Homo sapiens: one gene and its partner. The protein of the gene in region 2 interacts with the protein of the main gene of each other region in a pairwise test. Each region holds a gene or a part of one and is shown on either strand. Other genes may lie near its edges.

Region 1 (7,025 bases), on a different chromosome or scaffold from region 2:
CAGCTACTTGGGGGGCTGAGCCCAGGAGGTCAAGGCTGCAGTGAGCCGAGATCATGCCACTGCACTCCAGCCTGGGTGACAAAGTAAGACCTTGTCTCAAAAAAAAGGAAAAAAAAATAAACCAGGACTTGATGATTTTGGAAAATTCTTAGCCTATCCAGATAGTGTGCTCCAGAGTATGGCTAGAAAACCTCTTGGTGAAGAGATTAGATATGTGACTCATGAATCCAATCAATCATCTCAGCAGAATCACTTCCAGCTTTGACTGAAAGGAACAGAAATGGGATGAAAAGAAGGAAGGTTGTTGGACTTCTGGGATCCTACTAGCAGAAGACAGACCAACAGAGCTAGTTGGCTGCAAGTTCACCTTCAAGAAAAGGACAGAATGACTCTTAAGGGTAGCTCAGAGACCAGCAAGGCCACCAAGGGCAACTCAGAGGCTGGTGGGGCTGTGGCTACCACCACAAGCCCAGACATCACAGGTCCAGATGATGGAGCTACTGTCTGTCTGCTTGGTTTCAGAGGGCAAGGCCACTGCCCCTGTGGGACACAGGGTGGGGCCCCCCTGGCTGGCTCAGAGAACAGAGCACCAGAGAATGAAGGCACAAATGATTATTTTTGGGTTTTGAAATCTAATGGATTCAGCCTGCTTGGTTGCAGACTTACTTTGGACTAGTAACTCCTTTATTCCTTTTATTTTCTCCCTTTTACAGTGGGACTTCTATGGTATGCCTATCCCACCATTTTATTTTGGAAGCAGTTTACTTGTTTTCCAGTGTCATAGGTCTGTAGATGGAGGAGAATTTTGTCCCAGTGTGGTCCATATTCAGAGTCTCACCCATATGTGATTCAGATGATGCTTAGATGAGATTTTGGGTTTAGAGTTGATGCTAGAATGTTAGGATGGAGTGAATGTGTTTTGTATATGGGAAGGACATGAATTTTGGGGGATCAGAGGGTAGGAGAATTGTGTCCACCAGAAAGATACGTTGAAATCCTAATCCCCAGTATCTGTCAACATGACCTTATTTGGAAACAGGGTTTTTGCAAATGTGAACAAGTTAAGATGAGGTTGTGCTGGATTAAGGCAGGCCCTAACCTAGTGAATGATGGGTGTCCTTCAAAGATGAGGGAAATTTAGATACAGTACGTACAGAGAAGGCTGTGTGAAGATGGAGGCAGAGATTGGAGTGATATGTCTGCAAGTGAGTGAACACCAAGCACTGGCAGCATCCACCAGAAGCTAGGAGAGAGGCATGGGACAGATTCTCCCATAGAAGCTCTGGAAGAACCAGCCCTGCTAACACCCACATTTTGGACTTCCAGCCTCCAGAACTGTGAAAGGATGAATTTTTGTTTTTTTAAAACACCTAATTTGTGGTAGTTGGTTATGGCAGCCCTAGGGAACTAATACACTATCTCTAAAAGTTTTTCTGTTAAGAAGGGTATAATAACTAATTAAAGGAGTGCCTTTCAACCTTCAAAAGAGTTTTTCAGCAACTGTTCTCAACTAATCTTCAATTATTTTGTTCTTTATTATTGTTCATGTTCGTATGTGGTATATGAAATTGGCTGTTACTAAAGTATAAGCCAATTTCACAATACAATACTAAAGTATTATATTTGTTTAGGGGAGCTTTTATTAATGCACTAAAAAATCTAAATACTTTTCTGCAATTTTTGAAATTGATTAAATCTTCACAGCACAATATTAGATTTTCAATGTGGATTTGTGGAGTTTTTTTTTTAAGAGTCAGGGTCTTGCACCATCGGCCAGGCTGGAGTGGAATGGCTTAACCACAGTTCACTGCAGCCTTGAACTCGTGGGCTCAGGTGATCTCCCGCCTCAGCCTCCCAAGTAGCAAGGACTATAGGCATGTGCCACCACACAGCTAATTTTTGTATTTTTTGGTAGAGACAGGTTCTCACTATGTTTCCCGGACTGGTCTCAGACTCCTGGGCTCAAGTGATCCTCCCACCTCAGCCTCCCAGAGTGTTGGGGTTGCAGACGTGAGCCACCCAGCCGTTTTAATAGCCTCTTGCAATAATTTTATTTTTCAATGCAGAATTCTCCCCAAAACCTAGAAGTAGAGTTTATATCAGTTTGTATTTATTACTCATAATTCAAATTGTGAGAAATTTCAACTGTGGATTCTTCTAGAAAAAAAAATTTATCATTATTTGAAATTTTTTTCATTATTTCAGTTATTAAAATATTAAAGTTGTTTACTATTTATTTAAGTTAAATTTAAATTATCCAGGTATATAGTTTTGAAGTAAACCCCATTTTTGGAATTTAGAATTTAACTGAAGACAGTTGAGGAGTGATATGTATATATATTACTTTTTCTTGAAATGACATTATTATAACAAAGATAATTTTTAAAGGAAAAATTTAATGCAACCTCAAAAATCCCTCATATTCACAACACCCTGATACAATAACTTTCTTTTTTACATTTCCAAATATATAAATATATACATGAGATACTCAGTTACCATGATTAATAATTATACACAATTCATTTTGTTAAGCATTAAATAGGTCATCTTTAAATAGTAGGCAGCTTCCTGAGAGTATTTTAAAATAAGCAAAAATTGGCTGTCATATTTTTCTAAAGTGAGATTGTTGGCTGTACAAATTCAAGTTCTTAAAATTATTGGGTTATTTTAACTTTTTACTTGTTTCTTTTTCTTTTTTCAGCACATAAATGCCCATCATGCTTATGAATCTCAGATCTCATCAATGGCAAAAGCCATGTCTCGATTAGAAGAAGAGCTGAGACATCAAGAAGATGAGAAAGCAACAGTATTAAATGACTTGTCATCTCTTAGAGAACTTTGCATTAAACTTGATTCAGGCAAAGATATTATGACCCAGCAATTGAATTCGAAAAACCTTGAGTTTGAGAGGGTAAGAAAGATAAATTGTCTTGGCACATTGTTTTATTGAGCCCTACTCTAATTATTTTACTTTAGTATTCACCACACCATGCATATACTTGTTTCCTTTTAGAGTAGTTACTTTTTTTTTTGTGATGGAGTTTTGCTCTGTCGCTTAGGCTGGTGGAGTTCAGTGGTGCGATCTCAACTCACCACAACTTCCGCCTCCTGGGTTCAACCAATTCTCCCTCAGGCATCTCAGGATGCCTCAGCATCCTGAGTAACTGGGATTGCAGGCATCTGCTAACACACCTGGCTAATTTTTGTATTTTTAGTAGAGATGGGGTTTCACCATGTTGGCCGGGCTGGTCTCAAACTCCCAACCTCACGTGATCTGCCTGCCTTGGCCTCCCAAAGTTCTGGGATACAGGCATGAGCTACTGCACCCAGCCTACAATAGTTACTTTTGACTACAGGATTTTGACAACCAGATTTGACTGCTTGATTCTTTGCAAGATTTCTCAGGCAAACGTAGTGATGAAAGTGGGTAATGTTTTGGAATAGATGGCTATCTAGGAGATTATGAATTTTCTGATTATAAATCAGCATATCCTAATACATTCTTTCTCTGTTTAAAAGTAAGACTTGAGGCCAGGTACGATAGCTTACACCCGTAATCCCAACACTTTGGGAAGTCGAGTCAGGCAGATTGCTTGAGCTCAGGAGTTTGAAACCAGCCTGGATAGCATGGCAAAACCCCGTCTCTACAAAAAATACAAAGAATTAGTCAGGCATGTGGCATGTGCCTATAGTCCCAGCTACTCGGGAGGCTGAGGCAGGGAAGGTTCACTTGAGCCCAGGATGTCGAGGCCGCAGTAAGCAGAGATTGTGCCACTGCACTCCAGCTTGGGCAACAGAGTGAGACCTTGTCTCAAAAAAAAAAAGTAAGACTTGAATGAAGGATTGAACAGTTCAGTGCTTCCGAAGTAGAATATTTTTCCCGATAAAAATCTCAAGGTGTTTAAATCTTAATTAAACAAGTCTATTTAGCTAGAATTTACCTTTCCCAGATGGAGGCATTACTTTAAATAACCTAGTGTTTGTTTTCAAACATGGATGTTTTCAATTTTCACTCATCTAGTAGTATCTTTATTTTCAGGTACTGAGAAACTATAATACTGGCTTGATTATGTAGTCAGAGTAAGCATATTCAACCAGAAGGGTCTCATTGCCCTTGTGGTTTTATCTTAATGACCGTCTCTTGATAAGGTACCATGACTAAAAATTATTTGAGGATTTGAGTAGATCCTATAGCCAAATAAGCCCATAGTAAAAATAGCAAAGATTATTTTGAAAATAAAGTGTCTTTCTTATACTTAAAGAAACAGTTCATAATCTTTAACCCATACCCAAAATGAAACAAGTGATAGGTGAATAGTTCCACAGAGCTATATTGTCAGATAAATAATTTTTTCAGAGTAAGTTTAAAATTGTACTGAAGTAATCTTACTTTGTTTTTCACGTAGGTTGTGGTGGAATTAGAAAATGTAAAGTCAGAGTCAGACCTACTGAAAAAACAACTTTCAAATGAGAGACATACAGTTAAAAACCTCGAATCATTGTTGGCTACAAACAGAGATAAAGAATTTCATTCTCACTTAACCTCCCACGAGAAGGATACAGAAATCCAGCTACTTAAGGAGAAGTTAACCCTTTCTGAAAGCAAATTGTAAGTGTCTTAAGTCAACTTATGCAAAGACAATTGCTTGTGAAGGATAGTTTTTTAATTTTTTTGAAGTGGAGGAAAGGTTAAGAGTATGAAAGATAGGCCAGGTGCAGTGGCTCACACCTGTAATCCCAGCACTTTGGGAGGCCAAGGCGGGTAGATTGCCTGAGCTCAGGAGTTTGAGACTAGCCTGGGCAAGATGGCGAAACCCCGTCTATACTAAAAATACAAAAAAAAAAAGCCAGGCGTGGTGGCACACACCTATAGTCCCAGCTACTCAGGAGGCTGAAGCGTGAGAATCACTTGAACCCAGGAGGTGGAGGTTGCAGTGAGCCGAGATTGCACCACTGCACTCCATCCTGGGCGACAGAGCGAGACGCTGTCCCAAAACCAAAATATTTGGCTTATACATCTGCTGCTTTTGGAAATTTAGGAGACTGACTCGGGAGAAACATCGTGTTGGGAGGTGCAGACCTGTATATCTTCACTACAGAGGTTGTACCGTGGGAGTAATGAGAAGAGAAAACGTTAGGAAAGCGCCTACAGTTGAGGAATGGACAGAGGAGTCAGTGAAGGAGAAAGTGTTCTCGGGAGAAGAAGAGGTGGCTGTGTCTTATGCTGTAGATTAGGAAAAAGGACTCTAAAAAGGCTATGAGATTTGACCCACATACATGTATTGATTACTTTGGGAGAGACTGATTATGTCATATTTTTAGAATAGAAGGATTTAGACATATTTGTAGGAAGAGGGAAAGAAACCCAGAGTAGAGTACACATGGAAGAATGAGCTTTTGAAAGGTATTAAAAATATTAATATTTCTCTTTCCAAGGCAAGAGTCAAGAAAGAGCCAATGAAGACACTTTACATCTTGGTGTTACCATTTATGTCTCGTTCAAATTTGTATCCCTAGCATTGCTTTAGTGCTTAGCACATAATAGATGTTCAGTACATGTTTCATAAATAAACTAAATGAATGAAAAAGAAAATGTGATAAAAGCTCTAGAAGTTTAGAGAATTCTTGTTGAAAGGTCTTGATCTTCTCTTTATTAATTTAAAAAACCCACAGCACCTGACTCTACAAAACGGAACGTTTATTTCTTGATTTTTTAATTTGTTTTTAAGAACTAGTCAAAGCCGGGAAAACACCATGCTTCGAGCTAAAGTGGCACAGTTACAAACAGATTATGATGCTCTGAAAAGGCAGATCTCAACTGAAAGATACGAACGGTAAGACAAATTTTTTTTACATTTGACAATGTTTTTATGTGTTCTCTATTGTACTTCAGAAAGTATTTAATATGGCTTTACAAATAACAAACTTTTTAAAAAGCTAATACATAAAGTACATTTCTTTGGTAATTCTTCCTTTTAAAAAAGGCAACAAGTGTTGGGGAAGATAATAGCTCTACAGTAACTAAAATAGCAAGTATTACATAGCGGATGCTATATAAATATTTATTGAATAAAATTGTTTAATAATCTGAAAAATAAGGTAAAATAGGAAGTATTGGATAAATATTTCCTATAGCATTCCGCAGGACAAAATTAGAATCCAAAAGTATTTCAAAGAGTATAGAGAAGCAACAACAATCCCTATAAGAGCTCCAAAATGTATGGTTCAAGTAGGATGTTCCACATACAAATCATAATAAAGGTAATGATTTGAAGATAGTAACAGCAGTTAACAAATGTGGACCAGACACTATATAAGTGTCTGATGAATCCCACCAACAATCTATTATTATGCCTACCTTATAGGAAACTGAGATCACATAAATAGTAAGTGGTAGGAAACCAAACAGATTTTAATTCTAAAACCTGTACCCTTAACCTCTTCAATGTATTCCCTACAGCTTGGTAATTTTCATATTCACTCATATTTTGGTTCATTTGCTTTACGTTGAAAAATTTAATCCCCAGGTGTTACTAACCCGGATTGAGACCTGCTTTAAATCGAAGTCTAACTTGAAAATCAGTTGCCAAGTTACTTGTCTTCCATTACTCTTTCCTACTATATTAATACCATAGACATCTGCATTCCTGAGATTTCATTCTCAATTAGTGGCCAAATTGCTTGTTAGATCAGTTTTTGAGTTATTCTTACCTATTTACGTCAAAACTTTGTAGTGATGTGCTATTTGAAGTATAGTGACAATTTGCTATGAAATCAATATTTACGATTTCATAAAGGCCTGGCTTGGTGGCTCATGCCTGCAATCCCAGCACTTTGGGAGGCCAAGGCAGGTGGATTTACTTGAGCCCACGAGTTTGAAATCAGCGTGAGCAACATGGCAAAACACCATCTCTACAAAAAAATTTTTGAAAATTAGCTGGGGCATGGTGATGGGTGCCTGTAGTCCCAGCTACTCAGGAAGCCGAAGTGGGAGGATTGATTGAGCTCAGGAGGTTGAGGCT
Region 2 (7,124 bases):
CAACCCACAGAAATTGTGAAATGATAAATAGTAATTGTTTTAGGCCACTAAATCTGTGGTAATTTACTACCTGTGTACAGTAGGATAACACAGGTATAGTTAAGCTGCTATCCCATCTTTGCCCTTCTCTTGCCATCCAGCTTCATGAAAAGGTACACTTTAGCACCTGTATTTACTAATCCTTAGTTCTACCTCCAAGTTTTATTAATTACAAAAACTCTGACCCCACCTTTGCACTGAAAAGCTTTCTTTTTTTTTTTTTTTTTTTTTTGAGACGGAGTCTTGCTCTGTTACCAGGCTGGAGTGCAGTGGCACGACCTCAGCTCACTGCAACCTCCACCTCCCGGGTTCAAGCGATTCTCCTCCCTCAGCCTCCTGAATAGCTGGGATTACAGGCGCTTGCCACCATGCCCGGCTAACTTTTGTATTTTTAGTAGAAACGGGGTTTCACCATGTTGGTCAGGCTGGTCTCGAACTCCTGATCTCGTGATCTACCTGCCTTGGCCTCCCAAAGTGCTGGGATTACAGGCGTGAGCCACCACACCTGGCCTCTTCTATTCTTTTCTCCTTTTCTTCACAGGCTCTATTGTCCTCCTCCACACAAACAATTTAATCAAGGATTTCCACCCAGTTCTATCTCAGTTCTCATTCTTCTTGTCTTTCCATTAGATACCCTCTCCTTTCATTCAATAATTATTTGGGGGAGTGCAGCACACACCAGGCACTGGCTAGGCATTAGAGATACAAGTAAACAAGTAAACTAAGTAAACTAAATAAACTAAGATATTAGTAAACAAGTCTAATATGGTGCCAGCTCTCATGGAGCTGCTTTCTTGATCACAAAGGGGCAGTTCACATCCTCCCTCAGTGACCTCACCAACTCCCTTGAGCAAAGCTATGAATGTATGGACAAACAAACACACTGTGAAAATGAGTCCCAAATCAATGATTCACACCTTTCCTCAAAACTTCAAACACAGTGGCTCGCATCTGTAATCCCAGCAACTCGGGAGGCTGAGGCTGGAGGATCGCTTGAGGCAGGAAGCTCAAGACCAGCCTGTGCAACATAGCAAGACCCTGTCTCTAAAAAAAAAATTTTTTTTAATTAGCCAGGAGTGGCAGTGAGTGCCTATAGTTTCAGCTACTCAGGAGGCTGAGGTGGGAGGACTGCTTGAGCCCAGGAATTGGAGGCTGCAGTGAGCTACGATGGCGCCCCTGCACTCCAGCCTAGGTGACAAAGTGAGGCTCTGTCTCTTAAAATAAACAAACAAAAACAAAACAAAAACACCAAATGCTCATTTCTAACTACCTACTATATACATCTCCCAAATATCACAAATACAGTATATCAAAATACAGCTCATCATCATACCCCAAATCTCTACTTGCTGATATATAACTGGTTGACTCGATAAATATGTTCAATTAAGCTGAATTTACAGAATTACAATCCTAGTTGCTCCAATTTAAAACCTCAGCATCACCTCTGTTCCTTATCTCTTAGTGAATCAGATAACAGAATCTATTAACTTTTTCCCTAAAAATCTCTCTTGCCCGCTCTTCTCCATCTCTACTAAAAATATTTTTGTTCAGGCTCTCATTATTCTAATTAGTCTCCCTTTCACTCTTCACTCACTGACTTCATCATCCATCTATTAATGTAACTAATATTTTGAAGCACCATCTAAAAGCGAGGCACCAGATATAACAAGAAAGTAGAATAGTCTATGCCCTTGCAGAGTTAAGAGTTTCTAAGAGGACCGCAATTAAACAAGTATTTACAACAAAAGGGCAGCATGGGAAGTAAATTCTGTGTGCCATGAAAGTACCTAACTAACTCTATGCAGTAAGTAAAAGCTTCTCCTCTCTGTAATACCCCCAAAAATGTTTGCACTGAGAGCTAAAATACGAATAAAAGTTAGAAGCAGGGGAAAGAATATTCCAGGCAAGGGAAAATGCATTTACGAAGAGTTTGAGAAGTTCAGTTCAATTAACAAAGATCTGAGAGGGTGAGAGGTTAAAGGAAGAAAGGCAGACAGCAGATTGTAGTCTTGTGAGCCACAGCAATCTGAACACCTAAGACCATAGGAAACCACTGAAGAATTTTAAAAGGGATAGTTATGACTGGACTTAGTAAATCCACTCTGACTGGTGTGGAAAACTGATCAAAGAGAAACAAGAACTCTTTCCAAACACTGTTGAATCAATCCTACCTAAATACATGGATAGAGAATAGATCTGAACCCTTTACCTACTTCCTCTAGATTCGGATGGCTCCCCACTGTCAAAAGCAATCCAACTCAGCTTGGCATTCAGACCCTCTCCCCCATATGGCCCGGCTGACTTTTCTTTCCAGTGTTCTCTCACATCTCCCGCAAATCCTAAAACCAAGCTCTCGCCTCACACACAGTTGCAACCATTCTTTTCCCTCTGCTTGGAACACTCATTAGGCTCACTCTCTTCTCTACTGGGTTAACTTCCACGGACTCCTCAAAACTCACAGGAGGAGCCTTCTGAGAAGCCCCTCTGACATCCATCGATTTAAATGACGCTCCCGGTCCCAAAGCACCCTGGATAGTTTGCCTCTCTCCTGCTACACGGTGAACTCCCCCAACGCTACAATCGAGCACCCCCAATTACCAGCTCTGTGCAAAAGCTCCCGAAAGCGGTGCGCACGCGCATACTCGAGGTGCTCTGGCGCCACGCACAAACATACCCAGACACGCACCCTGACACGTACTTGCACTCTCAAAACACAGAGCCGCGGCTGCGCTTCCTGAAGTAAGGATTCCCCAACCGGGCGCCTGGATCCCAGGCAACAGACAGATGCCACCACCGTTCTCCCCACCCTTTTGGTAGCCCTGGTCCCTAAGGCTCGTTGGGACTGCGAGCTGCAAGCCTCAGATCCATCATCTCAACCTGCCTTGCAGTCGGTCCCGACTGCCGCCGCCACCGCAGCTAAAACTTCAGGCGCCGGAACCGCGGAGCGCGCCACAGGTTAACCCAGCCAGCGGCTTCCGGGCTGTTGCCTGGGTTACCAGAGCTCCGCCCCACGCCCTTGCGTATATCCGGCGAGCCCAGTGCGCAGGCGCCTCCCAAAGCCTATCTCGGGTCCTGAGTCTAAGGGAGAGAGGTTCCTCTGCAAGGTTCAGGGCAAATTATTAAAGAATAGGTATATAGCAGGCCGGGCGCGGTGGCTGACGCCTGTAATCCCAGCACTTTGGGAGGCCGAGGCAGGCGGATCACGAGGTCAGGAGATCGAGACCATCCTGGCTAACACGGTGAAACCCCGTCTCTACTAAAAATACAAAAAATTACCCGGGCCAGGTGGCGGGCGCCTGTAGTCCCAGCTACTCGGGAGGCTGAGGCAGGAGAATGGCGTGAACCTGGGAGGTGGAGGTTGCAGTGAGCCGACATGGCGCCACTGCAGTCCGGCCTGGGCGAAAGAGCGAGACTCCGTCTCAAAAAAAAAAAAAAAAAAAAAAGAATAGGCATATAGCATTAGCCGGTGCCTCGAGAATTCTCCAAAAGAAAGATGTTGCTCTCCTCACCAGACTTCACATATCACTTAATTTGCTTTCATCTCTATTCATTTGTTTACAAATCTTTAGTAGTGGAATCCCAGCACTTTTGGAGACAGAAGCAGAAGGATTGCTTAAGCTCAGGAGTTTGAGACAAGCATGGGCAAGATGGCGAAACCCCGTCTCTACGAAAAATTAAAAAATTAGCTGGGCGTGGGAACACGCCTGTAGTTCCAGCTACTCAGGAAGCTGAGGTGCGAGGATCGCTTGAGCCAAGGAGGGCAAAGCTGTAGTGAGCCACAGTCATACCACTTCACTCCAGCCTGGACGACAAAGCAAGACCTTGTCTCAAAAAAAAAAAAAAAAGTTGTTTATTACAACCTACAAATGTGCGGGAGAGCTAGGTTCTATGGGGCTAAAAACAGGCAAGGTGGGAAACTTACAGCATATTAACAGACAGTTATCAATGACAAAAACATTAAAATTATGACGAGTGCTAAGAAGGAAGCACTCTAACCAAATACTTAGCTTATTATTATAGTAATATTTGAATTACTCAGGAAAGCTCAGACATGAATAGGCCAGTGGGGAAGGGGAAAGCATTCCTGCAGAGGGAGCTGCATGTGCAAAGATGTGGAAAATGCAAGGGACAGGAAGAGGTCCAGTGTGTCTGAAGTTTAGAGAACAGTGGGAACTTGCTGTGAAGGGGAGGCGCCCTGATAGGCTGGATCCACGACAGTCAGAGCTGCGTGGACCACGTTAAGAACTTTACAAAGCACTTGATTCAAAAACAGAGTTTATTTGCTCTGGTAAGACAATTTCCTCTAGCCCCTTGCTTTCTGCTGTTACAATACACCCATGTGTGGTCTGCAAATACATGCCCAAAACCTTCTAGAGGAAAGGTACTGCCTTTAATAGTTTTCACTCTGATTGAGGAAGTTTGATGTAGATATATTTAATAATCAACAATCATCCACTTGCTTGCATCCTCAACTCCCTGCCCCTCTCTAAATTGCTGTAATCACTTGGCAAAATGACCATATTAGCCATCCCTACTTTACACTTACTAAGTGCTTGCACCCATGCAGCTGAATCTGAAAAAAAACACCCAATCATGCTGACTTTAAATTCATGATTACTGATGTTAAGTAGGACCTTAAAGATGCTTGAACATCTCATTACAGGTCCCTGTTCATTGATTTTCCTACATATTAGTTTTATACCTTCATTCATACCCAATGCCTTGTCTCCTATCCTCATTCTCACACAATGACCTTGCTTCCTACTGCATTGATTACACTGAATTATTCAAAAGAGAACTTCCCTAAGCTCCCATCATTATTTTAATCCTTCTGTCACTATCTTTACCCACAGACCTGCCTTCAGAAGCTCAGCATAAGAAATATGAAGAAAGCTAATCAAAATACTTCATAATCAAATTGCTCAGAACGAGTGATAAAAGAATCTTAAAAGCATCCAAGGAAAAAAATACATGTCGTATACAGCAGAACAAAACTAAGGATTACATCAGTTTCTCATTAGAATCAAAACAAGCAAGAAGACAGAATAACAGTTCAAACATATTCAAAGAAAAAAAGCTATCAACCTAGAATCCTTATACTATTCCTTTTTTTTTTTTTTTTAAGACAAAGTCTCACTCTGTCACCCAGGCTGGAGTGCAGTGGCACGATCTCGGCTCACTGCAACCTCCACCTCCCAGGTTCAAACAATTCTCCTGCCTTAGCCTCCGGAGTAACTGGGACTACAGGAACACACCACCATACTCAGCTAATTTTTGTATTTTTAATAGAGACGGGGTTTCTCCATGTTGGTCAGGCTAGTCTTGAATTCCTGACCTCAGGTGATCTGCCCGCCTTGGCCTCCCAAAGTGCTGGGATTACAGGTGTGAGTCACCGCGCCTGACCCTTATACTATTCCTGATACCACTTAAAGGTAGACTATGATAAAATAAAGATGTATACTATAAACCCTAAAGCCGCCACTAAATAATAAAAGTTATTGTTAAAAGCTTACAAAAGTCATGTAAAGGATAACGAAACAAATACTTGATTAATCTAAAAGTATAAAACAAGAAAAAACAAAGAAAAGAGAGAAGTAGGAAAGAAATTGCAAGATGATAGACTCATAAATCATATTAAATGTAAATTGTCTAAACACACTGAATAAAAGGCAGAGATTGTCAGATTGTCAGAGATTGTTTAAAATCTTGAATTTTTTAAATTGCTGCTTATAAGAAGGGAAACATTAAATATAAAGACACAAATAAGTTTAAAATACAAGGATGGAAAAAAGATATATCATGCTAACACTAGTGAAAATAAAGTGGAGTGACTTTATCAATTTTAAACAAAGTAGAGTTCAGAGCAGAGAATATAACCAGAGATAAAGAAGATCATTTAATAATAATAAAAGAACCATTTAATCAAAAGGTCATAACAATCCTAAACATTTTTGCATCTAATAACAGGACTTAAAAATATATGAAGCAGAAACTGATAGTACTGCAATGCGAAATTGAAAGATCCACAATAGTCAAATATTTCAATGCCCCTTTCTGAATAATTTATAATGCAAATAAGCAGAAAATCAACAAGGTTATAAGAGACTTGAGCAACACTATCAACCATCTTGACCTGATTGACATTTATTAAACACTCCAATAATTGGCAGAATACACATGGTTCTTAAGCATATACAGAAAGTTTAGAAGATGGACAATAATCTGGACCATAAACAAATGTTAACAAATTCAAAAGGATTGAAGTCATGCAAGATACATTCTCTGACCACAATGTAATTAAATTAGAAATCAATAACAGACTGATTCTTGGAAAATCCCTCAAAATTTGGGGAATAAAATACACTTCTAAACAAGCCATTGCTATGGTCTGAATGTGTCCCCACAAACTTTCTATGTGACAATTTGCCAATGTGATAGTATTAAAAGGTGGGGCTTTCAGGAAGGAGGTGATTAGATTATGAAGGCTCTGCTCATCATGAATGGGATTTGTGCCCTTAAAAAAGAGTCTTTTAGGAAGCCTGTTTGTCCCTTTTGCCCGTTTTGCCCTTCTGCTATGTGAAGACACAGGATTCACCTCTTCCACCATATGAGGACACAGAAACCAGACACTAAATTTGTTAGTGCCTTGATCTTGGATTCCCCAGGCTCCAGAACCATGAGAAACAAATTTCTGTTGTTTATAAGTTACCCATTTGAAGGTATTTCATTATGGTAACCCAAATGGACTAAAACAGAAGTTGGTACTGAGAAATGGGGTGCTGCTGTAACGATTACCTAAAAATGTGGAAACAGCTTTGGAACTGGATAATGGAGAAAGGCTGGACTATAAAGGGATGCGATAGTGTGGGCTCAGAAGGAGAGAAGAGCTGTAAAAAAAAAAAAAGCCTCTGTCTTAAGTGGTCATGATCAAAGTGTTGGCAGTGAACGAAATTCTGATGAGGTCTCAGGTGGAAATAAGGAATAAAATATTGGAAACTGGACAATACGCAAACCTGGTTTTTAAGTGGTAAGAACTTGGTTAAATTGTGTTTGTGTCCTAATGTTTTGTGAAAGAAGGAGTC

Evidence for each region. Proteins that work in one complex are often made in the same cells at the same time.
Region 1: the proteins of SPICE1 (region 2) and CEP135 interact in binary tests that used the Homo sapiens proteins (3 or more experiments, as listed by UniProt).

The regions. Positions count from the first base shown.
Region 1 is NC_000004.12:56,014,944-56,021,968, forward strand, and holds part of CEP135 (centrosomal protein of 135 kDa), read left to right. Parts: intron 1-2,704; coding exon 2,705-2,914; intron 2,915-4,409; coding exon 4,410-4,612; intron 4,613-5,732; coding exon 5,733-5,837; intron 5,838-7,025. UniProt on the Homo sapiens protein: Centrosomal microtubule-binding protein involved in centriole biogenesis. Acts as a scaffolding protein during early centriole biogenesis.
Region 2 is NC_000003.12:113,512,157-113,519,280, forward strand, and holds the start of SPICE1 (spindle and centriole-associated protein 1), read right to left. Parts: upstream 3,001-7,124; 5' UTR 2,741-3,000; exon of another isoform or gene 2,502-2,740; intron 1-2,501.